4 linked regions of the Homo sapiens genome follow. The protein of the gene in region 2 purifies or fractionates together with the protein of the main gene of each other region. This does not show direct contact. Each region holds a gene or a part of one and is shown on either strand. Other genes may lie near its edges. The genes, in order: CELSR2, NAALADL2, NAALAD2 and IGSF3.

Evidence for each region.
Region 1: the proteins of NAALADL2 (region 2) and CELSR2 purify together in Homo sapiens (affinity purification with mass spectrometry; 3 studies listed by BioGRID and IntAct, with this or other methods). This does not show direct contact.
Region 3: the proteins of NAALADL2 (region 2) and NAALAD2 purify together in Homo sapiens (affinity purification with mass spectrometry; 3 studies listed by BioGRID and IntAct, with this or other methods). This does not show direct contact.
Region 4: the proteins of NAALADL2 (region 2) and IGSF3 purify together in Homo sapiens (affinity purification with mass spectrometry; 3 studies listed by BioGRID and IntAct, with this or other methods). This does not show direct contact.

The regions. Positions count from the first base shown.
Region 1 is NC_000001.11:109,266,225-109,273,561, reverse strand, and holds part of CELSR2 (cadherin EGF LAG seven-pass G-type receptor 2 precursor), read right to left. Parts: intron 6,015-7,337; coding exon 5,920-6,014; intron 5,712-5,919; coding exon 5,502-5,711; intron 4,982-5,501; coding exon 4,798-4,981; intron 4,683-4,797; coding exon 4,554-4,682; intron 4,453-4,553; coding exon 4,272-4,452; intron 4,139-4,271; coding exon 3,971-4,138; intron 3,869-3,970; coding exon 3,742-3,868; intron 3,630-3,741; coding exon 3,429-3,629; intron 3,137-3,428; coding exon 2,962-3,136; intron 2,636-2,961; coding exon 2,523-2,635; intron 2,346-2,522; coding exon 2,266-2,345; intron 2,177-2,265; coding exon 2,050-2,176; intron 1,963-2,049; coding exon 1,840-1,962; intron 1,285-1,839; coding exon 1,157-1,284; intron 923-1,156; coding exon 834-922; intron 730-833; coding exon 535-729; intron 397-534; coding exon 226-396; intron 127-225; coding exon 1-126. UniProt on the Homo sapiens protein: Receptor that may have an important role in cell/cell signaling during nervous system formation.
Region 2 is NC_000003.12:174,862,055-174,869,391, reverse strand, and holds part of NAALADL2 (inactive N-acetylated-alpha-linked acidic dipeptidase-like protein 2), read right to left. Parts: exon of another isoform or gene 5,324-7,337; coding exon of another isoform or gene 5,302-5,323; intron 1-5,301. UniProt on the Homo sapiens protein: May be catalytically inactive.
Region 3 is NC_000011.10:90,172,538-90,179,874, reverse strand, and holds part of NAALAD2 (N-acetylated-alpha-linked acidic dipeptidase 2), read right to left. Parts: intron 6,052-7,337; coding exon 5,960-6,051; intron 3,904-5,959; coding exon 3,813-3,903; intron 2,023-3,812; coding exon 1,758-2,022; intron 1-1,757.
Region 4 is NC_000001.11:116,664,477-116,672,024, forward strand, and holds the start of IGSF3 (immunoglobulin superfamily member 3 isoform 2 precursor), read right to left. Parts: upstream 3,258-7,548; 5' UTR 3,142-3,257; intron 2,993-3,141; exon of another isoform or gene 2,885-2,992; intron 2,481-2,884; 5' UTR 1,851-2,480; coding exon 1,808-1,850; intron 1-1,807.

The sequences.
Region 1 (7,337 bases), on a different chromosome or scaffold from region 2:
GGGGGCCTCCCCGGCTGCCCTCACTAGCGGAGGAGCCCCGGGAAGACCCTGTGCATTGCTCCAGGGGGAGCCGCAGGAGGCTGCTCTTCTCGCTGATGGTGGGCAGACACTTCTTCTTAAGGATGCCTGTGGGCCGGGGCGGGGCTGTGAGGTGCGGCCACAGGAGAATGTGAGGTATGAGGCTGCTGACTAGGGGAGCTCGGCAGCTGGGGGTGCCCCACTCACCTTTGTGAGGCTGGGCAGAAGAGCCTGGAAGGGGGCCTAGGGACCCCTCTCGAGACAGGGCATCTCCATTCTCCCGCAGCCGCTCCTCAGGGGCCCCGTTGCCACTACTCTCTTTTGCTGTGGTCCCAAAGTCTCCTGGCCAGGGGGCCTTGCCAGGCCCTGGGCCCCCATCTGGTGGGGAAAGGAAGTAGATGAGGCCCACAGAGGGCAGATAGCCAGGAGGCCACCACCCCAGTCCTGCTTCCCAAGAACCCCAGGCCCACTGTCCTCCCACTGGCCCCAAAGGCCACAGCCCCAGTGCTGGCCCACCCTTGGGAGTACTGTGCAGGGGCAGTCTCTCTGCTCCAGGCCCCAGCAGGCTATCCCAGCCCTGCTCTCCAGGGAAGGCGGCCTCCTCTTCCTCCTCCTCTTCTTCCTCCTCACTGTCTGATGAGTGGGTAGAGGCATAGGAGCCACTCTGGTCGTCTTCTAAGGACAGGTCACTGTCGGAGTCCGTGTCAGGATCTAGGAGGCCAGGGAGAGATCACAGCCAGCCCAGCCACCTCCACCCACCTTCAGTAAAAGCCAGCCAACTGCCCTGCTGGGTGGCCAGAGCGTTCTGTCCTCACCATGCTGCTGGTCTTGACCTTCCAGGAACAGGCTGCCTGGATCCCCCAGGCCAGGGGGCCCTTGGCCAGGGTTCAGTGCGGACTCCTCCCTAGGAAGATGAGACCATGCTGGAGGGGTCAGCCTGGCCCCTTGCCCAGGGTCCCAGTCTCTCCTCTCCCCTGGGATCCTGGTTCCTGCTGTGGGTCCCTTACAGCTTCTAATCCAAGCTGGCCCCCACGTCAGCCACAGTGTGTGCTCCTCAACTCCCAACAGCTGGCTGGCCTGGGTCCAGCATGCGTGGGCCCCTCCTCCCCTCCTCCACCCTCCCATCTCCGGGATTCACCTCAGCAAGAAGGGGATGTAGCTGGGCTGACTCTTGCCCGAGCGACTGGTGCTGTGCAGAGAGCCGGCCGAGTCTCCGTAGGGCTGGTACAGCCGCCCATCTGCGTAGGGGCTGGGGCAGTTGTAGGACTAGGCAGGGAACAGAGAGGTCAGTAAGTGGGGAGTGGGATGGCTGGCCCCAGGCTGGGAAGAAGGAGGGTGGAGGGAACTTGCCCTAAGTTCCACCTTCCACATGCTCAGGTCTGAAAGAGAGGGCCCTGCTTCTCCGCTGTCCCCATATTGAGGCCTGGCAGTGGTCACAGCTCTGCCACAGCTGTGCTACCCCTGCATGCCCCCAGGGATCCTGGACTCACTATATAATGGCTCTGTAAAAGATGAGACCAGAAATTGTCTCCTGAGAGCACCTTGGGAGACAGAAAATTTACTAAAATTCATGAGAGATTCTCAGGTGCAAGGCACTTATTACCTGATTATCTGTCTCAGCCCCATCTCCCTCAAGTCAAAATCCTACACACCCTTTCCAACATCTCCTCCCCAGGCCGAACACAGCATTTCACCTCCCCTTCCACCTTCCAGGAAGGGATGGAGAAAAGAGAAAGGGGAGTGGGGCCAAAAGTACAGGCTCACTGGGCCTCCTGCCTCTCCCTCCCTTCACCGCCCTCCTGAGACCCCTGGCTCCCTCACCGAGGTCAGGGTGGACTTGGTGGTCAGAGCAGGGTCAGGGCTGGGCTTGCGGCTGCAGGCAAGCTTGAGTGCTTTCCGGACCTCCTTGCTAAGCACCACATAGGAGAGGAAGATGAAGGGGCCCTGGCAGGCAAGAGGCAGCAACGGTCTGTGCATATTCAGGCATCCACAGCCCAGGTGCCTCCCTTCTCCACAGGCTGGGCCAGGTACCTGGATGCAATTGCAGGTAGCAAAGAGGTAGTGGAAGAGGAGGGTGTCGCTGTTGACAGAGAGCAGTGCCAGCAGCCACGTGGCGCTCAGCAGCAGGAGGACGGCGAAGGAGGGCTGCAGGCCCGAGCTGGGGATAGGGACAGGCCATGAGTCCGGCCATGAGACCTCCCATGCTGGTGCCTGCCCATGGCCCAGGCACCCCAACCCTATACTCACACAGGACCTTTCTTCTCAAAGCCCTGCCGCTGGGCAGCACAGGAGGCCCGGGCCGCCAGGATGTACAGGAAGACACTCATCTAGGCAGGGGCAGAGGGCATGGGGTGCTCAGTGGGGACAAACAGCTTCCACCCAGCCCACAGGGCCCCGTGGCCTCAGCTGTTCCTAAAGGGAGTCCTGAGGACACGCGGCCCCAGCAGCAGGAGGACAGCAAAGGAGGGCCACAGGTGACACCCAACCCACCTGCTAGCACTCACCGAGACGGCAAAGGCCACCGGGCCAGCAAAACTCCAGATGAGCGTGTCATAGATGGAGAGCCAGCAGAAGTCAGGGTTCCCGTAGCCCTCGGGGTCCAGGCCCACGGCTAGCCCTGGAGCATGGAGACAGACGGGAGCAGTGGAGGGGTGATGAGGGGCCTGGGAAGTAGGGCTGCGGGCAGGTGGGCTCACAGGGCCAGGCATGAAGCATGGAAAAGGGTTCTGCCCACCATCGGCCCCTACCGATCTCCCCAGGATAAGGGAGTGACGCCTGGGTGGCGGCTGCAGAGTCTGGGTTAAACCAGAGGGACACCTGTGAATAAGGCGGCCTGGGGCATGGGGATGTGGGGCCTCAGGGCCTGTATGTGGGTGGAGAGAACATGGCACAAAGGTGGACCCAGGGATGTGGGACCCCAAGACTGGGAATGGGTGGGAGTACCTGTGATGAAGGCAGGCACGCCCCAGCCCAGCATGTAGTAGAAGCGCATGGGGCCGGTGTTGACATCGCGCACCTCAGTGAGTGCCCGGTACAGGTGCAAGGCCTCCAGCAGAGCCCAGGAAAAGGTGCAGAGGTACAGGAAGTGCAGCAGGATGGCAATGACTGTGCAGGCAAACTGAGGGCCCAGGCCAGGGCAGGTCAGCGACCGGGGCCCGCCCAGAGCACAGGCTCTGCTTCGGGTCAGGCATGGAGGAGGGCCTGGGTGTTGGGAACTGCTTCCAGGGAAGCCTGGGCCAGAGGCAGGTGCTGGGGGATCCCGGGGGAGCCACAGAAGAGGAAACCCTGGGCCAGGTGCTGCACTAGGCACCTTATTAGAGTTCATGGTGCAGGAGCAGGGGTTGCCAGTGGGGGCTGGGGAGGCGGCCTGAGAAGGTGGGGACAGTTTCTGGGCAGTAGGAGCATCTTACAGGGAGGTCAGCCTGGTTGATTCCCAGGAGGAAGACCAGCTGAGCCAGGCCCAGGGCAGCTGTCAGGTTACGTCGGATGCCGTGTTGGTTGGAGCGCAGGATACGCAAGAGAGTGAGGAAGAAGAAGGTGAGCAGAAGGGCAGCCAAGGTGACACCTAGAGCCACGTATGTCAGTGTCTTCAGTGGCAGGATCTCCCCATTCTGCAGAGTAGGTGGCAGGGGGCCAGGGAATTAGGAAGGGCAGGACCTGAGCACCCAGCCCCGTGCCCTGGGTGCCCACCCACGGCTCTGCAGCTGCCCCTGTGGGCCCGACCTCCCGCCGAGAAACGTCCATGAGCACAGCGAAGCTCGTCATGTGGTTGCACTGGCAGCTGACGTGGCTCTCATTGCGGAAGACGACTTCACAGCCTCTGGCCGACCAGCCACCTGTGCCACTGACCCTGTGTGAGGAAGGCAGGGTCAGGGAGACAAGGAGGGTGAGGCATGCAGGGGCCTGGACTTTCAGCCCGAAGCCTGAGGGGGCGAGGGCAGTGCAGGCTCACAGGATTGAATGGTTCCAGAAGACACAGATGGGCTTGGTCCGCTCCTCTGTCTCCAGCAGGCGGAACTGCACCGTGACGGGTTTGTCCAGGGCCCGGGGCAGAAGCTCCTCATCATCATGGACGCTGATGCTCACCACGGGTGTGTTGATGATCGGGCGTTTGGGGACTCTGATGTGGGGCAGTCAGGTGCACAGTCACCACGGCAGTCACATGACTGGGGAGACGCCCCCGACCCCCTCCATGCCTCAGCACTCACCGCCCGACCCATACCCCTACCCACACCTGTCCCCTAGCTGCTGACCTCAAGCTGCGCTTGTCAGGGTCATAGTTATGAGGCAGTAGCCCGGCCAGGGTGCGGTAGATGATGACGCTGGCCACAGCCTCACCCTGGCTCAGCTCCGGGTGCCGTCGCTGTCGCCGTGCCAGCTCCTCTGGCTCCTGGGCCTCTCCGGGGCCTGCGGGCCTGACCACGGGGGGCGTCTCTGGGAGGGGACACTGTCACACTTAGCTGGGCCCTGCTCTCTGTGGAGTCTGCACAGACACTGGGGTCCAGCTCCCAACTCAATCCATGGCCACCACTGACCTCTGAAGACAGACTCAGGCAGAATGACTGTTGTCTCAAGGTCCGGGGGCTGCTCCCCACGCAGGGCCTCGTAGCGGGGCAGCTTGGCCCCAGCAAAGTTCCCTTTGTCCAAGCGCACTACGGAGATGACTAAGGAAGGGGATGGTCACAGATCGGACCTGTGAGGCAGGCAGGACCCCAGCACAGCCGCTCTTGTCGGGGACTCCCTCCACAAACCCCTCCCCAACCCAGGCACCAGCCTTACCAATGTTGGGCGTGACGATGGTGAAGGGGCTTAGGTAGGTGTGCCGCATGTTCTGGGCCAGGGCACTGGCGTAGGCCTCATAGTGCTGGAGCAGCCAGGCGGTGCCACCCTCTGTCTGCTGGATCAGCTCCCAGTGCCGCTTGTTGGCTGTGTCCAGGAGGGCGCTGCCCACCCGCAGCAGATTCTGGGGTGGGCAAGGTCACGGTGGGTGTGCTCACAACCCACACCTGACATCCCCACCATGGAGCCCCGGCCTGTGCCCGGGCCAGTCCCTGCTCCCCACCAGGCCCCTCCCTCTGTGCTCACTGTTGCCTCCCCTGAAATGCTCCTGGACCGCACTGCCCACTCAGGTCACTGGATGCTCTGCCCCTAAGCCCTCCTCCTCATTCTCTACATAAGAGCTTCCCAGCCCTGTGCCTGGACCCACACACATGTCCTGAGATACTGCTTCCTCCCAGCCCATGGTACCACAGGCAGGCCTCTGCTCTGGGTCAGACCATGCCCCAACACACATATGTTACTATGAGAAGGGTTGGGAAGAGGGCTGGGCCAGGGGTCACAGGGTTTCATGGAGGCCTCCTGCCAGCAGGGAGCTCCTTGTAGGTGGGATGGGAGGGCCCCCTCTGCCCCCCAGGTTGCCATGAGCAGGCTCACTCACCATGACCCCTATCTAACCAGCCAGCCCTGCATCCTCCAAGCCCCACCTCAGTGAAGTGCACGTCCTGTGTGGCAGACAGCCCAAAGCCCCGCTGGGTGCTCTCGTGGGCCAGCAGCCGCGTGGCCAGCTGGTAGGCCACCTTGACGTCGCTGCCGAAGTAGCCAGCTGTGTGCTGCGTGGCGTTGCGCAGGAGCAGGGCTAGCTGCTGGGAGCGCCCTGAGTCTAGGCCTGACTCATTCCGCTGTAGCCGCTCAGCCTAGACAGGACGGAGCGGAGGAGCAGGAGTGAGGGCAGGAACTCTGGAGCAAAAGGACCTCAGGAGGTGAGAGACGGCCTCTCCAGCTGGGAGCCCAGGAACACACAGGCTGGAATTCCAGAAGCCCCGTTCTCAAAGATGGGAGTGGGGGCAAGTGAGACTCAGGACGAAGGACAGGGAAAAGATGGAGATGAGGGGGTTCACTTACGAAGCCCTTCAGTTCTGAGAAGGTGATGGACGTGCAGTTGAAGAGGTTTGGGGGGAGCCACCCCCTGTGCTCATCACAGTGGCGCACAGCAGTCCCTGGGGGAAGGAAGCCAAAAGGGCCGGCCTCAGGGAGACACACAGGAAGCCCCTGAGACTGGCTGAGAGGTTCTGCTGGAGGCCAGCACCTCATGGGCCGGGGACAGTAACTAGCAAACAAGGGCCCTGGTGAAACAGGAAGACAGGTATGTAGAACACCAGGGCCAAAAATCTCCGCAAGATCAGTCCACACATGGGCTCTAGGGGAACAGGGCATACGACCTCCTTGAGCCCCCATCCTGCCTGTCTCCAGCCACCACTTTGTGCTCTCCGCCACTTCCTGCCTATGAACCTGCTCATTGCCAGTCCAGGACCAGCGCCAGCCCCCATCCTGGGCTGGGTGTCCTGGGTCAGCAGCCAACACCCCCTACTCCCCAGACTGTCTGCCTTTGTGGTGGCGTAACTCCAGGACTCGGTGGTGAGCTGACGATTGGAACCCTGCATGATTCATCTTTGAATCTCTAGCACAGCCCTATGCCAAGCACAGTGCAGGTTTTTCAGCATTTTTGTTAAGAGTCCAAGATGTGGGCTGGGCACGGTGGCTCACGCCTGTAATCTCGGCACTTTGGGAGGCCGAGGCGGGCTGATCACAAGGTCAAGAGATCGAGACCATCCTGGCCAACATGGTGAAACCCTGTCTCTACTAAAAAAATATAAAAAATTAGCTGGGCATGGTAGCACACGCCTGTAGTACCAGCTACTCGGAAGGCTGAGGTAGGAGAATCGCTTGAACCTGTGAGGTGGAGGTTGCAGAGAGCCGAGATCATGCCACTGCATTGTAGCCTGATGACAGAGCGAGACTCCGTCTCAAAAAAAAAAAAAAAAAGTCCAAAATGTGGTGGGGTGCAGTGGCTCACGCCTGTAATCCCAGCACTTTGGGAGGCCGAGGCAGGCGGATCATGAGGTCAGGAGTTCGAGACCAGACTGGCCAACATGGTGAAACCCTGTCTCTACTAAAAATACAAAAAAAAAAAAAAAAAAAAAAAAATTAGCCAGGTGTGGTGGCGGCCAGAGGCTTAGGCAGGAAAATTGCTTGAACCTGGGAGGCAGAGGTTGCAGCGAGCGGAGATCACGCCACTGCACACCAGCCTGGGTGACAGTGACAGACTCTGTCCCAGAAAAAAAACCAAACCAAAACAAAACAAAACAGTCCAAGATGTAGGCACACCTGGGCAACATGGGGAAGGGGGAATGTGAACCAAGGAAGATGGGAAATGAAATCCCAGGACCTGGAGGCCAGAAAGTGGGGTCCCCGGATCTTCAGCCAGGAGCTTCCTGCCCTCATCCCACTAACAGCAGAGGCCATGTCCTCGACATCACATC
Region 2 (7,337 bases):
CTGAACTTCAGCTTCCATTTGTGAAAAGGGAAAAATTATATTTATCTCCTAGAACTGTTTTGGTGTAACTACCTCTTTTTTCCACTCTTCTTTCTCCCATTTCCAAAGTGTGGTCATTTCCCAGGGCTTTATGACAGAATTTCTACTGTTTTAAGCTTCTTAAAGTTATACTCTATAATTTCATCTTTTTTCACCTCATTCCCAGTGATTCTCCAGTTGTATTCTTTCTCATGTCTCACCTTAGTTCCAGGCTTGAGTCACCAAATCCTTGCTGTTTGACTATTTTGTCCTTTAATATTTCTCACTCATTTTAAATAGAAATTCCCAGCATGAATTCCTCTGAAAACTCCGTCATCTTTATCTTCTCTCTCTCCCATGGACTCATCTCAGTTTCTTTTATTTCTGCTCAGACTTTATACTCCATCATCATTATTCATGTCTTCTTCCTCTACCATCCATCTTTGTATAGTCTCACCTATTCACAATGTCATACACCATTTATGCCTTAATAACTCCTAAAGCTTTATTTCCATCCTATTTCTCTCTCTCCCAAGGTCTAGTCTCAATTTTTCAATTTAAGTCCTAGACATTTTCATCAAAATATACAATTACAGTTTAGAATAACTGTTTTAAAGCAGTCTCATTATATTTCTATTGCCTAAACGGTCCCCATCCTACATTCTCTAAATCAGTTAAGGATACTATTCCTGCTGTCATCCAAGCAAGAAATCAAGTTTTCACAGTCTCTTCATTTTTCCTCCTTCAGTACAAGCAAACACCAATTTAACCTCAAGTGTCTCCCAAATTCTTTTTTCGAATCCCACTATAATCACATGAATTCAGCGCATCATCACTATGATGATGGATAACAATAAGGATGAGGTTTAAAATTAAAATGATGGTGTTGATGATTGTGGGAACAGAAAAAACATTTATCAAGTGTAAACTATGTGCCATGGACTGCTCCAAGTGTTTGGCATATTTATGTTTTTAATTTTCACAATTACCCAGTAAGGGGCATATGCCTAATATATACAAATATAAATAAGCACATCACTAAATTTCCCAAAGAACTGAGAATTCATCAAAGGCAGCAGACATACCCTCCATATCTAAAACAATCATGTAAAATAAATTCTATTAAATGAATACATTAGTATTTCGATACCTCACTGTTATCACAAATGCAATTTATCCAAAGGTAAAAGCATTACATTTCTCCTTCTTCCAAAATAACCTATTTACCCCTCACAATGTATCTAGATGCAGTTACATTAGATGCACAGCCATCCGTCACACCTAGTACCTTAGCATTATGTCTGAAGCCTTTGAAATTAGCCTCCTGTTACCAATAAGAACCAACCCTTTGACTCTTTCATGAGCTTCTCTCCTTACATTCTGCTGCTCTAAGTTTCATTTGTTATTTGCCTTTTCATTCTTAGACTTTCTGAGAGCTCATCTAGGTAATCCAACGAGAGTCACTGTAACACAGAACTAGAGAAAATGAGGAGGAATAAATTCTCTAATTTTGAATAACAGTGCACTACTTCCAATCTCAGAATAAAGAGACTCTATGCCAACTATTATTATTCTTGAAAAAAGGTCTGTTTCAATTTGAGACAATTTTTATTTGCCAATGGTTCTTTTATTTAAAGCTTCTTGTTTTATTTTGTTTTGTACTGATCATGTTAAATGCTGCTACTTTATGCTCAACTAATTTTCATGTTAGAATAAATGTAAATTGCATATACACATAGGAATAAGACTGTGCATTTTATGCTTTTTTTCTGAGCATATTAAACTTGAGAAAACATAGTATATGTTAGCTATGGATCTACGCACTAGAAATGAAGCAATAAACAAGTCAGCTATGGCCTTTCATCTCAGGAAGAGAACATTTTATTGCAGTGAAATAGACAATAAACAAATATACCAAAAAAGGAAAATGGCTTATGGTGACATATTAAAAGAATTAAAAATCACACATTAAGACAGACTGGCTAGTTTAGTTTGTGAGGCTGGAGATGATATTTAATCTGATAACTGATTGACAAGAAGGAACATAATATAAGAAGTTCAGCAGAAACAACCAAAACATGTAAGTGTTAATAGCGGATCAGCTTGGTGTGTTTGTTGGAAGAAAGGAGAAGGCCAACACTGTGAGAGTCAAATAAGCTTAGTAAGTTTCTGCCTTAAATTAGTACCCAATTTACTAGTTCTTTCCCCTTTTTTATTTTTGTGATTATGAAGATAAACTATTTATTATCTAATCAATTTAGTTAAATATTTTACATAGACTCCTTTTCCAGAACATTCTATTACCTACATACCAACTTAATTGCAGATTATGTTACTAAACAACATAAGATATTTTGATAAATATGATTTAGTAATTAGTAAGTATTTTATAGAAATATAGACAATATTATGGGTTTTCTAATCTAGAAAAGAAAAAAAGATGCCCCAAAGAAATTTTTATAGGTCTAATTGTAAACTGGAAAAAATATAAAATATGATGCTAAAACTGATCAGAAATCAGAGTCAAGAATAAACACATTAATATTTTCTTAGTAATTTTTTTCTTTTTCTCCAAATTCCTATTTACCTACATATAAAATAACTTCTAGGCAACATCATTACTTCATTGCATCTGAAGGTTATAAAGTCGTTATTATCAATGCCCATATGCTCTTCCTTATTCTTATCTCTATTCTCCTCTTCCCCAGATCTGCCATAGTAACTGCACTGAACCCTTCATTAACCAAAATAAATGCAAAACACCTATATAAAATTCATTAGGAACTCTGGGACAGACAATTGAGTAAGCTTATAAGATATATATATAGAAGCCTAAATTTTAAAAGAATCTATTTTTATTCTGAAGTTTTAACAGTGTAAATATGTAAATCATGTAAATACATAGATCTTGTACAATCTATATTTTTAAATTATTCTTCTATTATTTTCCTTTCTATTTTCAGATTTACTATAGGTTTGAAATTTTTTCTGCAGAAATGTTTTTGTGACAAATATATGGCTGCATAGTGCAATAGCTTTAGGAGCTCAAAGGAAAATCATCTATGTCAATATTCTTATATGAGTTATATAATAGTATTTTCCTTCTCTCTATAACAATTTTAATTTTAATGCTCAGTGTTTTCTAATAAAGATGCTCTCTTCTAGTTAGGCCTGTCTCTTATCCTCTATAGAAATGATTTCAATTTCTATCATCATGTCTATCAAGAAATCCATGCATCTGTTGAATGACTGGTACATTTCTATATAATTTGAAGACCATAAATGTGAAAAACAATTTATTATTTTCTTTTGGCTGCTAGGAGGCTTGAAAGCAAATTTGTCACCTGCTTGACAGTTTTTCAGCATGTTCTGGCATATATTTTGTATACAAATTTTAACTGTTACATTGTCTTAATCTTATCTCTATTATGTTTATTTATTTATAGCCTATAGCAAAGTAGAGAATTTTGAAAAATCCTCTGTTTCCAAAGAGGGGGGAAATAAAGCAAGTAAATACATAGAAACAATTTCCATGCTTTCTCTCAGCTGTTCTTTTGACCAGTGAAGGCTTTTTTCCTTCTGGTCACTTATTCCAGTTTATCAAACTGCCAAGGAAATTTCAAATCATCTCTCTTCTATGAAACCCTCTATAAATTCCTAGATTCCTCTATAATTTCTTATTTACATCCCTGTGTTATAACAATACCAAGAATCAGCAAGAATGGAAGCAATGTCTACCTTTTGAGGCAGTGTATTTCTCCATCTCTGAAAGCTCCCTCGAAGAAATGTGGATGTGATGGAGAAATTTTCAAGATTTATCAATAGTTTAATGGAAGATAGGCTGGTCTACGATTGCATTAAAGGTCATAAATAAAGAGGAAGATAAAGTACAATAATCCTTCATTCCTCTCTTCTCATGACCTGTTTTCAAAGGAGCTTACTTTTGAGAGAACAAAGGAATCAAGAGATTGAATGGATTTCAGCAGTTTAATCAGATCTCAGAATGAATCTTTCACTGAAGTTTCAAGTCACACGGTAAAGTTGATTGTATGGTTTAACAAGCATACGTGCACACCTTTTGCATGTTCATTATAAACTGCATTAAATTTAGCAGTTGACTTTTCAAAGTATTTCTCTTTCGACTTTTTTAGTTGGTAGGATTTTATAACTTTATTATTTTTTTTTGGACACAATATACAACCTGCATTACACTAATCAGGGGTTTAAAGAGGCAGGTAAATTACTTTTCAATATAAATTACAGAAAGCATTTATGAAAGAGCCTCCCGAAGTGTTCGACTATGCAGATGGTTAAACATATCTGTCACCAGAGCAACAAAATAGCATTGTCAAATAAAACTATTGACACATACTTTTCCTGAAGAGTAATTAGAAGCTCAAGGGATCAACTGAAGCTCAATGCCCTTTTGTGTATTGTCATCCTAATAACATCTTCTTTGCAATCTTTGCAGTCACCTGTTATTTCTTCACTTATATATCAAGTCTAATACTTTCCAATAATAAATCAAATACATGTTTGGTTAATAGTCCTCCCCCAAAAAACTGTGATACAAAGAAGTTTGGCTTACTGTCCTACTCAATTAGCTAAATTTGTTTAAACTCCTTCCAAAATCCAGAGAATAGCATACAAAGTAATAATTACATTTATATACTTATAATCTTAAGATTATTACTGCATCTTTTGTTCAAAGAAAAATTCAAAAACAGATTCAAACTTTTAAATAGATGGAAAAGTTTTTATTGCATGATTAATAATAACGTATAAACAATCAAGTCATCCTGTAGTTATGTATCACCTTTTCTTCAAGAAGATTTTACAGTGACTTTAATTGAAATGTAAAATGTTTCCCTTTGAAACAATTTCAGTACCATAAAATATTATTTAAATCAAAGGGGATTAAACAAACTCCAGGAACAAACTCCATATTTCAAAGTGTTTGAGAATTGGCTTTTCCTCCAACAGCAGGTTTTAACTAAGTACCATGTCATTGACCACCTTTATCTCACGTTCTATTCAAGTACACTGCTTGCCATCTTATTTCTAATAAGGTAAAGATTCCACTTCCACTTAGAAAGACAAAGAAAAAATTAGCTCATAAGCTCAGTTAGTTGATTTCATTAACTATTTCTTAGGCTTTACTTCAGATTTTGTTTTCCTAATCTCTTTTGCCTGCTGCAAAGACCCTCTCTTGTACCTGGAAAATGTACCCAGTCCATCTTCACATGCACCTTTGCCTAACTCACTCATTTAGGTCAGACTCACCTTGGATTTCATGCCTTGACATTTTCAGCAACTTTCTTTGCTCCAAATTTGCTTGATTTTGTTTTGAGATTATGAGACTTTCCAGCAAAGATTCTGGAAATTTCAACTCCAAGATGTCCTGTTACCTCAATATCTAAATGTCAACTCTGAAATTCCTCAGGTCTTCAAGTGTTTGAACCTATCATGAAGGGCTAGTGAAAGCCTTCCTCATGGAACACAGGTCCAACAGGAGCTCCTTGCACTTCTGTTAATTGAAAATGCTATTAAAGTTCTGTAGGCTGGGAAGGAAGAGTCACATACTGGTTAGTCCTCTTTGTGGCATCACAAAGATTTCAAGGCACTCACAGTCATGGTTTCTGATGATGAATACAGAGATATTTTTCCCACCACAGAAAGTAAGCATGCACACCAAACCAGTATAACAGGTTGGAGTACAAAGTACTACTACCCTCAGGCTGCAACTTGGAAGCATAGACACTAAGGCTCCTCCTGCCTAGAGTTGTTTTTTTTTTCTTTTACTTATTTTAAATAGAATTAGTGCCATTTCTAAACAATGACTCTATTATGAAGAAACATTCCATACATGTGCCTATGAACTTACAAGCCAACTTCTCCTAGCTGTAATGAAAATTAACTAAATGTCTTACAAGCTAATGTAACTTTTGTTTAGTAAAGAGAAAACCCAAGCCTGGATGGACAGGTTCCATAATAAGCTCACTGAATACTCGACAATGCTTTCAAGACCATAAATATAGAAACTAAAAGACGTCAATATGGAAAACATTACTAAGACTGCTTTCTCCATTAGAAATAGGAAAGTAAATTACTCTAGAAAATAATGCACCAAATTCTTCCGTAAAACTGCAGCAAACGCAGTTTTGAGCAGCAGGTTAGAGACGTGGCCTCTGGCAATGGCTTCTGTGAAACCAAAAACAATTTTCCTAGCTTCATAGGATCTCTGTTACTCTACAAAGTAAAAACATTGGACTTGAGACTATCTTCTAGCTTGAAAATGTTAATTTTCTGAAGATTATTTTTTCCTAACTGTGATGGCAAAATTCTCCTTCAGTGGGTTGAAGAGTTATCTCCTGCTGGTTGCTATCTAGAGCTAGCTCTGCATTCCTCAGGATCCAGCCAACTCCTCTGTACTTGGAACATCTTCCCCCAGAGTTCTACTGTTTTGTAGCCTTCAGAGTAGGGATTTCCTAGAGCTAGAGAACTAAGAAGAACTGAAGTAGAAGGAGAGCTATTATTAGAAACGCTCAAAACATCCAGGCAGCTGGTAGGCAGCACGAGTGCCAAGTGTATTAAACAGCCCAGGGAGGCGTAACTTAAAGATTCCTCCTCTCACAAGATTGTCCCAGCATTAAACTCAGAAATACTTTTTATTCAATTATCTCAAGGGCCAATTAGTATATCATATTATTTACAAAGAGGAAGGTGCCCTTGAATATATTTCGACTAAAGATGAAAAGGAGAGAAAGAACATGTTAAAAGCTCATGGAAACTGGATTCCTGAGGTAGCAGGAGCTCAGCAGGTGAAGCACATAGCTGGATGCTGATAGATTCTTTCCCCATTTTCCAATTCTGACTAGGACCTACTCTGTTAATAAGAATCCTGGGAGAAGTAGGAAATGGACATCCTTCGAGGCAGAGAAGAGGTAAGAAGCCCTTATACGTTCAAGGATGGCCTCTGAAGAAACTTTAGCCTAAGGCATATTCCAGGTAGTTCCCTTCCAGGAAGGGAGCTGTCACCCTCCCATCTCCCAGCCATGTCCCTCCCTCTACTCCTGTTACAGACTGATGGAGTGATAGAGTGCCACTCAGTGGTGCAGGTGAGTTTGCAGGCATTATGCAAGAAAAATGATCCTTCCCTTCACAAATAACAATGCTTAGAAAGCACTTACCCCTATTCCTTATGCCATATTATTTGTACAATTTTATTCATATTTGCAACGTTTAGAAAAAAATTCTAGCATTCTCTCCTTACCTAGATAATTTATTTTATGAATCCTGAGGACATTATGAACCTTCAT
Region 3 (7,337 bases), on a different chromosome or scaffold from region 2:
CAGGGAAAGGAATTAACAGATCAAACCAGGCCTCTAAGAAGGTAAGTAGGTAGAAGAATTAACCTTGTCTAAAGAGAGCCCTTCCACTCTAACTGTGTGGTTTCTGTCTCTTAATTGGACCCTGACTTATAAAAACTGATAAAAGATCATTCACCAAAAGGAAATCAGGGAATTTAGGAAGACAACTGGATGCTGAATAGCCACAGAACTACCAATGTCCATTTTGCTGTAGGCTCTGCTTATTTCTCTGGTTTTATCTCTCCTTATTTCCCCCATCACTGCAGAGATACTCCAATTGTATTGATATAAACACATTTTATTTGCTTCATTTTTTTTCTAGACCATAGTATTTGCTATTATTACTAATCCTGTATATAATATTATATAAAGATTACTAATCCTTTATATAATAATATTCAGAAGTCATTACTATTCCATACCCATTTTCTGTGTTTTTATAGTACTCTCTACATAGCCCCATAGTAACCTATTATCTGTATATTGCTTTATTCCCCACATGAGACTTTAAGCTTTCTTAGGACTATGACCATGCCTTGTACACATTTATATCTCCCAGGTAATAACATAGTACTTGGTACACAGTAGAAACTCAGGGCATATTTGATAATTTGGGTATATACTAAAAATAGGTGCCCCCAGAATAATAAAAGACAATGTTTGTAATAAAACAGTAATAGGTAATATTTAATGAGCACTAAGTGCTACCCACCACAGCTTCTATATATTACCAAACTGAATCTCCACAATGATCTTTGAAACATGATATGTTCTTTTTTATCTTTTAATTGTATGAAAGCTAACACATAGAGAAGTTAAGTAACTTTCCCAAGGTCACATAACGAAGAACTGGTAAAGCTAGTATCTGAACCAGGCAAACCACTTCCAAACTCAATCCTCAATGCTACTACATACACTGCATTATGAGTCATCCTTGCTGTATAGGAGATGCACAATGCAGAAGAGCAACCACTAAACAGTCATTAATAAAAGGAAAGTATACTTATAACCATGGAAAAAATGTTTCATATAGACAAACACTAAAAGATATATGCAGTAATAATCATTTTGTTGACAATAATTAAAAATACGTATGTAATAGTATTTGTGGCTTTCTCAATCTTTTGCAAATAATGTTACATTTTTCTAATATTGTTTCTATAACAGTAAATTTTTTTTTTTTTTTGAGAAGGAGCCTTGCTCTGTCGCCCAGGCTGGAGTGCAGTGGCGCGATCTCAGCTCACTGCAAGCTCTGCCTCCCAGGTTCACGCCATTCTCCTGCCTCAGCCTCCCGAGTAGCTGAGACTACAGGCGCCCACCACCATGCCCAGCTAGTTTTTTGTATTTTCAGTAGAGACGCGGTTTCACCATAATAGCCAGAATGGTCTCGATCTCCTGACCTCATCATCTGCCCGCCTCAGCCTCCCAAAGTGCTGGGATTACAGGCGTGAGCCACCGCACCCAGCCAGTAAAAATGTTTTTAAAGGCCATAATACAAGAAAAATGTTTACCATCCCAATGTTTGTGGTAATAACTCAGCCATAATGGATTCATTCTATACATGCCAGATTAAATCAGATTCTTTAATAGGTGTTTGTTTTAAGTTTTTGTGTAGAAGTCAAAATAAGTAAGGCAAATATGTATTCTAGGATGAAACAATATGCATTGATCATCATAGGAGATAATATCTTAAAGCTCTAACTTAAAGACTGTAAAATATCTGCCCAACTATTTCTTACCAAATGATACTCCATGGTCTGTCAATTGTTGATCATGTTTCTTAGATAGATTATAGATACTTGCTGCATAGTTTTTCAAAGCTTCTGCATAGTCTTGAATATTAAAAGGAATGATTTTAGAATCCACAAGCTCATATACCAGTGCTCCTCGTAATTGAGCCACAGAAAGTTGTTTTTTAAATGTGGGGTCATAAAATTTCTCTACCAATTCAAATGTCTCATAAATTGTGTGGTACACTGGGTAGCTGCTGTACTTATCTGTTTTCTGAAAAAAAAATGGAGAGGCAAGTATAAATAAACATTAAATATTCAAGTTATAATATTTTTATGTAAGCATAAAAATAACTATAGAAAAAATAACAACCAGCCAGTCATGGTGGCTCACATCTGTAATCCTAGCACTTTGGGAAGCCAAGGCAGGTGGATTGCCTGAGCTCAGGAGTTCAAGACCAGCCTGGGCAACATGGAGAAACCCTGTCTCTACTAAAAATACAAAAAAAAAAAAAAAAAAAAAAAAAAAAAAAAAAAAAACAAGAAAAAGAAAAAATACAACCATATAACACCCTGAGTTTTACCACAAGGAGGCAAAACGCTAATAACGAAAACACTATAGCCAAATATTCACTGGTTTTAAAAATTTTCTCATTATTTGTTTTATAATTTATGTAACCTTCATTCAAGATGCTACACCTTGAACATTTTCTCCTTGTATCTTCGATAACTAAAATTAGGGAATACATATTCAAATTGCACCTCAGCATAGTTCAAAGTTATCTATCAATTGATTGGTAAAAAAAAAAAAAAGGTTCTGGGCAGCTAAGTACACAGCTTAAGGATGATTTATTTAAGTAACTTCCCTTCCTTCTCAAACAGTGTATATCTAAATGTCATTTAAGCTTTATTACATAATTAAGGTACCATTATGAATATGAATTATTACATAGTAGTATCCCGTATAAATATTCTTTTTAGTTCTTCGGTCTGCCTTTTCTAATTTTAGTTTTTATTATTTGCCACCTTGTATGGCTATCGTTCTTACTGCTGTTAGTATCACTAAAAAGCAATCTCCTTATCAGTCCTTCTCCTTCTATCTAATTATCTGCTTCTAATCTAAAGTGGTCTTAGAAACTAGATAACTTTGAGCAAATTACAGAAGACAGAGTATAAAAGTGAACAGGCCTTGACAAAGAGTTAAAACACATCATTTATGTATTAATTGTAATGAATGTAAGCATTCTGAGTTTATCTATTTTGGGTTACTCTGGGGTTGCTTTTATTTCTTTGTTCTTTGTTGTATTCTGAACAGTCAAATTTGCAAGTGATATACATATAATGGGCAAGCAAGATTTAGATGTACTGTAATTATGATTTGAAGATTGATTAAAATCTATGACAAATCTGTGTCTGCTACTGTAATCTTCAATTTGGTTTATGAAATAATTTATAACATTGATGAGCAAACATGGTATATATTGGTTATATCCAAGTACCTGCATATCATCAGGATGTCTGTGTGACAGTAGTGCAAACCAGTCAGTGCAGAACAGAAAAGGGGATCAAGTTAAAAGAGAAACTTGCTTTATTTCCCAACCAAGAACCCTTGACTCAGGTGACAGGCAGAAGTGGCAATATGAAGAGGAGCTACCGACAATAATGAATCTTACCCTAATGCTCCTCTTGACCAAAATATGTTCTCCAACTGCATTTATCCTCATGAAAAGTACATCAGAGCCTGCAAGACTAGTCTAGAGAATGAGAGTTTTCTGACAAATCAGGAAAAGGATGTGAACTACTTAGTACTGATTAACCAGATAAGTGTCTGGCATTACTCTGTGAATCACCATTTATTTGATTAACCCTAACAATGAAATTTTCACAAAATTACTCAAATTGCTTCCTTGTCCATCTGGAAAGGGACATGCAGTCTATCTCTATCCCTGGGAACTCTTCCCAGGCCACATCCACCAGGTGTCTGGTGCCAAACAACTCAGTGACATTCTTCGCCAAAGGACTGTAGATGAAATGTTATATATTCAAAATGATAAAATGGCTTACCTTATTCTTAGTGTAACGGGCTCTGCCTGAAGCAATTCCAAGTCTCTGAAAATAAGCTTCAAAGTCACTTCCAGATCCCAGCTTATTGATTCTAGATGTAGAATGCAATCCACACACACACACACACACACACATAAACAAGTAAATGATACAAAGTTAAATAGATGGGACAAGGAATCCTGCCCCAAGAATAGCAAGGAATTATATATTACATTTATAAGAATTTAAAAAAGGTCAACCACCATCAAGACATTTTCCCATAATCTGCAGGAAAATTGCTGTAAAATTAAAAGTAATGCTGAAAATTAAAAATAATGGCAAAAACTGCAAATACTTTTGCACCAACCTATAACAAGAATTGGGCTGTGCCACCAAAGACTGCATCTTGTGATGATGCTCTCCATCATATCTTCAGCATTTACATTTTTGTTTAGAGGGGAAAACAATGAAGACGTGGGCCCTACCCTCAGAGAACTATCATCTAGTAAGAAAACTGCCATAAAAAAATCTACTTTTAAAATCATGAAGAATATAAATGTGCCTCATTTTAGAAATAAATCTAATTATAATTTATTTCTTTGCATATGATTAGGAAACCTCTGTTGATCTATCACATATATATGCATATACATAAATAAAATGTAAGACATGAAAATTTTTAGTAAAATAATGGTAAGTCATGAAAGCAGAATATAAAATTGCATGTTCATTAATAACATAACTGTTTATTTCCAAACTATTAGGTTAGTAGATATGTTTTTGAGACTGACCTCTTCAATGTTTTAGAAATCATTTTTGTATTTTACTGTTTTTGTTGAATTGGCATGTGAAAGTTTTATAATGGACCCACATTCAAACTTTCACAAGACTGATTTGAAATGAGGAATAAAGCTATAAACTGTTACTATTATTTGCTTGTACAAGTTGAGTATCCCATATGAAATGCTTGGGACCAGAAATATTTTGGACTTCAGATTTTTTTCCAACTATGAATATTTACATATATGCAGTGAGATATCTTGGGGATGGGGCCCAAGTCTAAACATAAAATTCATTTATGTTTCATATGTATCTTATAAACATAGCCTAAACTTAATTTTACATAATATTTTAAATAATTTTGTGCATGAAACAAAGTTTGTGTTAAGTGCTATAAGGTGTGGAATTTTCCACTTGTGACATCATGTTGGTGCTCAAAAAGTTTTGGATATTGGAGCACTTCAGATTTCAGGTTTTTGAGTTAGGAATGCTCAGTCTGTATTAGAAATGGCACTACAGTAGAAAACAAATATATACTTTTTATTACATAATGTTTAGAAAAAAGAAAATAAAAACAAATAAATATAAAATAAATTTAAGAAAGCTGCTGTAGCATGAATGAGATGACATAAAAAATAAAATAATATTTATATAAATTCTAAATCACAGGTAAAGACACAATTTGGTGGTTACTGATAATGTTCCTTAATAAATTTACAAGCAAATAATCTAGCATTTGTCTTTTCATCATTATCATCTGAAGTTATATTATATATTAATACACCTAATACATATGTAAATGAAATTTTAAGCAAGAATGCCAACTAATGGCTAATAATGTAGCGAAACTATTTTGGCTAAAAATTTGCAAAACTAGATCTATTTGTGCTCTAACATAGACTGAAAGACTTCACATGCTGGCTAATCAGCAAAACAAAACTGGATAGAAGAATTCTTATTTTTTTTTTTTTTGAGATGGAGTTTCACTCTTGTTGCCCAGGTTGGAATGCAATGGCACGATCTCGGCTCACTGCAACCTCTGCCTCCCGGGTTCAAGCAATTCTCCTGCCTCAGCCTCCTGAGTAACTGGGATTACAAGTGCCCGCTACCATGACCGGCTAATTTTGTATTTTTAGTAGAGACAGGGTTTCGCCGTGTTGGCCAGGCTGGTCTCCAATGCCTGACCTCAGGTGATCCACCCGCCTCGGCCTCCCAAAGTGCTAGGATTATAGGCGTGAGCTACTGGGCTCGGCCAGGAATTCTTCATTATCTTTTCTTGGCTCAAATTATTGATGAGACGCTTGAGAATTTCATGCTTGGAGAAACAAGAGGCAGAGGGGAATTCATAACTTATCCTACAGTAGAAAAGGTGCATATCAGTAACTTACCTAGGCAAATTTTTATTTTCAGGTGAAGGGTCTTTTTCCAACCAGCTTTCATACAGTGATTTACTCTCAAACCCATCATCAGGGCTGGGGATCTGGAAAGAGAAATCAAATACTGGAAATTAGGGGTAGAAGCAACTACATTTATGCCAAAATAAAACTATATATTATTTGTCATCAACTTCTACTTTTAATAACATATGTACATGTATATATTTATACACATGTATATGTTTTATAGAAAAATTATATTTTTGCAAATGGCAAGAAATAAATCTAGCCCAAATTATTTTTTATTCATGATGTCTACCTGTGTTGGTAATTTTGCCATGTACCTAAGATGTAATTTCCTGCTTATTTTGGTAAACTTTTAAATAGAACTTAAAATCTTTACAAATGCCATTTTAATTAATGTTTGGCAGCTTAGATTTCTTTTAGTGGGAAGACACTGGAGAAAACTTCAGATAAAACATTTGCTTTTGTAAATTATTTTTGCCTAATAAGACCTATAAAGAGGTCTCAGAACAATAGAGGTGACATAATTTCAAGCTCAGCTTCTTAACCTATAAGTCTTGGTTTTGCAGGGCAGGCAGGGGTTAGCGCTGGGACTATTCTTTTAGACAGTCTTATTATGTTTAAACAAAGTTAAAATTTTATGGATTTTTTAAAAAACTCTACATAACCTCAGATTTCTACTTGGGAATTTTTAAGAGCTCGTGTGTGTGTGTGTGTATATATATACATTTTTACTCCTTTCATTAAAAATACATTTACAAACTTATACTTGCCTTGTCTTTTGACACTCTAAGAAGAGCAGAGACATGTGGTGAAAACATTGTGGACTGTGGAGTCAAATTGGTCTATTTTAAATCTAGACTACTACACATATTGACTATATTTTGTTTTCTTGTTTGTTTATAACACTGATTTGCTCAAAAATAGACCCAAGGCAGACCCTACTTAAGTAACTGTGAAAGCATTATAACTTGGTGTATTTGTTCCCCTCTTTGAACCTTAGTCTTCTCACCTGTAAAACTGGGGATAATGGTACCTTTCTGAATATAAACATCTGGTATTTTCTCTGGCCTTTAGACAGAGTTGGTTATTCTAACTTCTGTGCCACTATTCTTAATTTTTCTATAGATATTTACTAAGCACTGAACTCAGAAAAGAGATGCGGAAACAGAGACATAGTCTCTACCCTCTTGGACCTCACAATGAAATCTAATTGGGGATACACACACCAAACAAATTTTGTAATACAAAATTATAATAAGCAGTTTAAAAGAAAATATCAAAGTGCTATAAAGAGATGTGGGGATGAGAGATAGATATGTCTCCAAGTAAGGGCTTTCTGAGAAAATGGCAATTAAATTTAAGA
Region 4 (7,548 bases), on a different chromosome or scaffold from region 2:
CTGGGCCCCACCCTGCCACTCAGCCCTCTTTCCCGCCTTAGCCACACACCCCACCCCACATCCAAACCTCCCCAAGGGCTTTCCTTGTTTGTGTCCTGTTGAATCCACATGAATCACTAATTGCTGATTTAAACCCAGACACTAAGCGAATGACACATACAGTACAACAAATACAGATCCAATATGAAGAGACTGGCAAATGAAGGGCTCCCTGCCTTCTTGACTCTGCCTGAGCATACAGGTGACATGGAGACACTGCCTGTATCCCAGCCCACAGCTGAACAGAAGACTAACTAAACTACCAGCAGGGTGTCTGCATGCGTTGGGTGGTAGGGCACTGGCGCTAGTGAACTCACCCACTGGTTCTCTACTGAACCATGCATGGAATTACCTGAGATAGCTCAAAGGCTGAGACCTGGGTCCCACTCCCTAAGCGAGTTTGGTTTCACTGATCTGGGGTTGTTGCCTGAAATCAGAATTTTTAAAAGCTTCCCCAGTGATTCCAACATGCACACGAGAGTTTGAGAACCACTGATTGCACAAATCTATTATGAGTTTCAGACATTATTTAAGGCAGTCAAGGCATTTAGGACACCTTATATCCTTTAGTTATCACACCTTCCCTTGTTTTATTGTTTCTGTTTTATTGACATTCAGATGTCAATCATGGTGAAGCTGGGATAGGAACTCAGGTCCTCTAATTCTAAAGTCCATTCTCTTCCCACACACCTGTTACCTACTGCAAGGGTGTAGACAATGCATGGAAGCAATCTCCACTGCCAACAGATCACCCTAAGTTCCCTACGTGCAAGACACCTAGATTTGGAGACGTGAACCCTGTAGGCAACAATCATAATCCCTTCTGAATGCAGAGGACCGAGCCTTACAGAGAGGGCAGGGGGTGTGCTCATGTATGAGGTCTGAGATGGGGAAAGAGAATGGCACCAAATCCTGGCAATGAAGTTTATCCTAGACCTGAGATGTGTTCTAAGACAGCACGCTGAAGACAGTGCTCAATGGCATAAAAAGAATAGGCAATTGTTGAGCAGAGGGGCCTCTTCACTGGGGTGAAGGTCCTGCATCTGCACCTTAAGAGGGGTGTCAAAGGTTCACCTCTCAGGGCCATAGTTTCTTCTTCCCACTCTAGGCATTCTGATTTGTGGGAGCACAAAAGCCAATCCTAAAATCTCCCCTACCAGGCAGCTTCCTTTTCTTCAGGCTCTCCTTCTCCCAGAACTACGATCTAAGCTTCCTTGGTGAGGAGACACAGGACTAGTGCCCTCACATTTTTAGCCTTCAGACCACTCAGGTAGGCAAAGCATCCCTTCAACCCCCATCCCACTTACTCCCATTTCCACCTCAAAAAAGGCACCATCATTATCACCCAAACCAACTTTCGAGACAGAGGGGAATGATGTTCCCACTCCCAATTAGGAATCAATGCAGCCCAACAAAGAAGTGAAAACACCAGAGCATCCATGTTTGACATGCTACAAGACAGCAGCCCACCAGCCATGTGAAGTCCCTAAACCACAGATGTGCAGATGCAGGACCTCACCCCAGGGGCCAAGACAGACACTTTAAGAACAGCAAATGTTCCTTCTTATAGATAACAAATGATATTCCACCGTTGCTCTTGGGTTAGAAACGGGCCTCTTCGTACTCTACTCCAACCTGTGACACACACCGACCGCCTCCTGGTGTCCCCCAAATCCTAGTGTTGATGAAAAAGAACCACGAGAAATTACAGGAACCAAGAGCAGGTTAAACTTTCACATCGATTGCACTGATAAGCAGAGCCACTTACCCAGCACAGCCAGACAGCTCAGCACCGGGAAAAAGCACTTCATGTCGGCAGCCTCCAGGAGACACAACACAAGGCGCTTCCTCTTCTCCCAGCTCCTAATCTCTCATTTCTGGCAATCCACTTATAGCTCCAGAGAACAGTTTTGGAAATAGAACTTAACTCGGAAAATGGGAACAGATTAAAAAGAAGAGATCAGAAGGAGGGAGTTGGGGGGAAGGGGAGGAGTGGAGGCAAGTGTGAAAACTCCCCTATGCTACAGGAAGGGTCCACAACAATTCGGAAGTCGCTCCCGGCTCCTGCCACATCGTGTGCCTTGCAGTTTCCACTGAAATTGCAGACTGTAGTGGATTAATCCTCCAGAAGCACGGAAAAAAGGGTCTGAGAAAATCCTTTCATCCACTGATTATACAGAAATGTCCTTGGCTTCTCAGTGAAGGTGTCTGTGATCTCCCTCATTCGGATTCCCCAGAGAGAACAGGGCAGGTTTCGTCAAAACCTTTGACGGCCAAATCACCCTGCCTGGCATCAACCGTTTGGGTTTCTTCACCAAAAAGTCCGTTTCCATCCATGGTGGTAGGTCACGGAGGCGCCACCTGCCCCACGCCTGCCTAGGGCACACGAAGCAAGTTGGCGTTCGGCAGCCCTGAAGCGGTACCCCAGCGCGAGCAGATTTCTAAAACAAACACAACAGAGATTTTTATCAAAGGCAAAGCTGCAAAACCCACTGGGGCTGAGCGCTGAGCTGGTCCGGACACCTGGGTCCGGTTCCTGGACCAGGACAGTCAACCTCTGCATTCTGACCTTGGGCAAGTCTCTGTCTTTCCCTCCGCCTCAGTTTCCCTGCCCAGAGCAGGGCAACAGTGGGAAGCCCGATTGTTCCTGAAATACTTCCACCAAATGCTTCACTCCTGGGAATTCCCGTCACCTCCTACCGAGCCCGGGCGCCGCAGGTAGCCCCACCCTCCGCCAGGGCAAATCGGGAAGGGGCTCCGCGGTGGGGCCGCGACTCCCGGCCCCCGCCCCAACCGTGGGAGCTCTGCGCGCGACGCGTCCCAGGTGGCCCCGCTATTGTTTTACCTTGCAGGGTGTTTATATCTCGCTGATTGGAAAGAAAAGAAACCGGGGAAGAAGGGAGTCCGGAGCTCCGCTTTCAGCTGCCGGAGCGCGCTCGCAGCGCGCCCGCCCAGCCAGGGGAGGGGTCTCGGGCCCGACCCGGAGCTCAGCCGGCGCGGGCCCGCTCCCCACTCCCCGCTCCCCGCTCCCCGCTCCACGCCTCCCCGCCTCCCTCCCCGGGGCCCCCTCCGGGCGCCGCCCGCGCCCCCGCCGAGCCTGACCTCGCCCCTGGCCCTCTCCCTCCGCGCGCGTCGGACCGTCCTTCAGTCCATCCAGGCGCACGCCTCAGGGGACGCGCCGCTTCCTCTTCTCCCGCAACGGCACCAGCAGCCGCGCTGCGGCCCCTCCCGAGTCCCCGCCCCTCCAGCTCCAGCCCGGCCCGCCGCACTCGGCGAGGCGAGCGCGGGGCCAGGGCGGCGGCCTCGAAGAGAGGCCCGGCCCCGCCCCCGGCCCCGCCCCTGGAGACGCGAGTCCCGGCCCCGGGCCTGGCGGGGGCATGAGGGTGGCCCGGGGCACCGGAGGACCTGGGCAGGGCTGGCGTGTGGGCCGAGCAGCCCGGCAAGTTAATCAGGGCTTCACACCCAGACTCCGGGGCCGCCGGCGAGATGTACAGGCCCTTCCCAAAGCCCAGCTGGCCACCCATAACCTGGGAAGCCGGCGGCACAGAAGCTCGTCCTTCCTCCTGGAAACAAAAACAAAGCCCTTTGGAGACTTGAATCTGTTCACGAAGTGGAACCCCATATTGCACTTCACTCTTGGATAGAATTTGGACTCTGGAAACAGCCTGGGTTCTAACGCCGGTTCCTCCACTTCCTCGCTGTGGCCCTTGGCAAGTTACTTAACCTCTCTGTGCCTCAATTTCCCCATCTGCTATGTGGAGGAAATAACCCTTACTTAAGAGGGTTATGGGAGAAATCTGTGACATACTTGTAAAGCATTTAGAATGGTGCCTGATACATCACAAGTGGTCAGTAAATATAAGCTATTATTATTTTATGACCAACCGCCCTGTAAAGCAAGTGCTTTTTCGTTTTCTCACTACTTACCCAACACACACAACTTGCTGGGTAGACACCGTCACGAGGCGACCAAAGCAGAATAGACCGCCCTGCCCTCATGCAACTTGCAGTCTAGTGGGGACACAGACCATAAAATAGACATGACAAGAAAAGTACAGTGTTGAGGAAGCAAATGCAGAGACCCCAACCCTGTGTTATTGGGGGAGGGGCAAGGAGGAGGGAGCTTTGGTCGGGGTAGGTCCCAGGCTTCTCAGAGGAAAGGAAAACTCGGTTGAATGCCAAAGAACAGAAGGCAGCAGCAGAGGAAGAGACAGAGGGGAGGTAAGGAATCGCAGACTGAAGAAACAGCACCTCTGCAGGCCCAGAAAGGAGCCCAGTTAGAGGACCAGGACAGTCTGCTGGGCCCAAACTTGACTGTAGGAGAGAAGTGACAAGAAATGAGCTGAGAAGAAATCGAGTGCCAGAACCTAGAGGGCATTGTATGGTGTGTTAAGGGGTTGGGACCATTGGGAAGCCACTGAAGGTGTTGAGTAAGGGACTATGGTTATCAGATATACGTTTTATTTTTCATTTTATTTTAAGAGACAGGTTCTCACTCTGTGACCCAGGCTGGAATGCAGTGGTGTAATCTTGTCTCACTGCAACCTCCACCTCCCGGGTTCAAGTGATTCTCCTGCCTCAGCCTCCTGAGTCACTGGGACTACAGGCGTGCACCACCACACCCGGATAATTTTTGTACTTTTAGTAGAGACAGTGTTTCACCATGTTGGGCAGCCTGGTGTTGAACTCCTGACCTGGTGATCTGCCCGCCTCAGCCTCCCAAAGTGCAGAGATTACAGGCATGAGCTACTGTGCCCAACCAGGAATCTTTCCTTGTGTGTTAATTATTACCTCTTTCCCAGAGACACCCGTGACTCTGGCAGCTCTCAGTTCCCATTTGCTAGACTCCTTCATTTATTTATTGAGCACCTACTACGTGTTAAGAAAAGTCTCTGCTCTCATGAAGCTTACATTCTGGTGGGAAACACAGACAATGAAACAAGTATATAATATAATGTAACGTGTTCTGAAGAAAAGTGGAGTATAGAAATGTGTGGGCGGGCACAGTGGCTCATGCCTATAATCCCAGCACCTTGGGAGGCCAAGGCAGGGGGATCACTTGATGTCAGGAGTTCGAGACCAGCCTGGCCAACATGGCGAAACCCTGTCTCTACAAAAAATACAAAAATTAGCCAGCCGTGGTGGTGCACACTTGTGGTCCCAGCTACTTGGGAGGCTGAGGCATGAGAATCGCTTGAACCTGGGAGGCAGAGGTTGCAACGAGCTGAGATCACACCACTGCAGTCCAGCCTGGGCAACAGAGCGAGAGTATCTCCAAAACAAACAAACAAACAAATAAAAAACAGAAAGGAAAAGAAATAGTGTGTATGTTTGGGGGTTCCAGTGGGAAGAAGGACTCTTTGCTAGGTGAGGTGGTCAGAAAAGACCCCTCAGAGGAAGTGACATTTGAGCGAGACCTGATTACAGGGAGTGTGTGAGCGCTGGAGATTTCTGGAGTAAGAAGATTCCAAGTGCAGGGAACAGCAAGTGCAAAGCCCCATAACATGTTCAGAAAATTAAAGGTGTGTTAGTGTGTCTGAAATGGCATAAAACAGAAGGAGAAGGAGGAATGTGATCAGAGAGGTCAAAGAGGCCAAATCTAGTAGGACCTTCTAACCTGAGGAGCTTGGCTCACTCTGGCTGCTGGGTAAGAATAGAGCATCAGATGGTAGGGGTGGACAAGGGACACTGGATGGGAGGTTCTTTCCATTGCGCAGGTGAGAGATGATCACAGCTTAAACTAGGGTGGTGCTGATGCAGGTTGTGGAAATGGGTGGAGTCTGAAAGCATTTAGAAAGCAGAGTCAATGAAATTCTCTGAAGAACTGAATATGGAGGGGGAGAGAAAGAGAAGAGTCAAGGAATCTTCCAGAAGGGGCATCTCAGCCTGCTTTGGAACTCTCTGACCCCCACCAAGGTGTACCCCCATCAAGGTGCAAGACTGTACTTTCTGAGGCCTCTGCCTAGGCCTTCATCCTTGAACCCCTATACTCAATTATCCCTTCTCTATTACTCGTTCTTTCAATCTCAACCTGCCCCTCTTCATACTACTTGGCCCCTTGCATCCTTCTGGATGATCTTTCAACCCTTGACTTCCATCACCACCCAGATGTGTTATGGCTGATTCCCAGCATGGCATTCTTTCTAATTTCCACATCTACGATATGCAAAGAACTGTGCAAAGTGTTGGATGGGGAGACAAAAGTATAATTTAAAAGAATGCCTCTGCCCTCCAGACATAGAAACGATTAAATGAGTCCTGAACAGTGATGTGATGGTGGCCCCTTCAGGAGTTCATCAGCAGGCAGAGAAGTGAATTGGAGGCTGGGTACAGTGGCTCACCCCTATAATCCCAGCACTTTGGGTAGCTGAGGTGGGCAGATCACCTGAGATTGGGAGTTCAAGACCAGCCTGACCAACATAGAGAAACCCTGTCTGTACTAAAAATACAAAAAATTAGCCGGCCATGGTGGTGCATGCCTGTAATCCCAGCTACTCAGGAGGCTGAGGCAGGAGAGTCTCTTGAACCCGGGAGGAAGAGGTTGCAGTGAGCCAAGATCGTGCCATTGCACTCCAGCCTGGGCAACAAGCTCCAGCCTGGGCAACAAGAGCGAAACTCTGTCAGAAAGAAAGACAGAGAGAAAGAAAGGAAGGAAGGAAGGGAGGGAGGGAGAGAAGGAAGGAAGGAAGGAAGGAAGGAAGGAAGGAAGGAAGGAAGGAAGGAAGGAAGGAGAAAGAAAGAAAAGAAAGAAAGAGAGAGAGAAAGAAAGAAAGAAAGAGAGAGAGAGAGAGAGAAAGAGAGAGTCCTAAGGGAAGGAGAGATGTCAAAGGAGAGGAGTGCACCGAAGTCCCCAGTCAGCAATGTCTGGTGCCCGGGCTGAACATTCCAGCTTGCTTCAAAACATTCTGCATTTGAATTTTGAAACCTCTACTGCACCGGCCTGGAATCAGTTGTTTATTTTGGACATTTTGGAAGACTCCTTGATCTTGTCCATCAGGGAGTTAAATGCAGAAGCCTGCAGAAGCCGAGCTGAAGCACAGTGCCAGGGAGTACTGGGGCCTGTGCACCCAGAGCACAGCCTGAAAGAGCACGCACAGCTTCAGCAAAGTGTTGCTGCTGGGAAGGAAGGTGTGGTGTTGCCTGATTTTCCTACTTTTTAAGAGAATCAGGAAATCCACATTAAAAAAAAATTATTCTTAATTTTGCTCATTGGAAACTAGTGTTTCAAAAATAAATTAATCCCTCTCTTTCTAGTTCTTCCTAGAGTGAGGAAAAGCTGGGTTGAGAGGGCAAACAAATTAACTAATTAATTAACTAATTAAACACTTTGGGGGGGCCAACACAAAATTTTTTCGTGGATAAGATATGGCCAAGTGGTTATATCAGTTTGAGGTTTCTAGACCTACCAATAGCTATAACCAAAAGGCTAATATAAAACCACAAATGGCATAGAGTTACATGTTTTAAGGGGAAAAAAATGAAGGGTGTTAGCCAAGTTATCCTTCATCA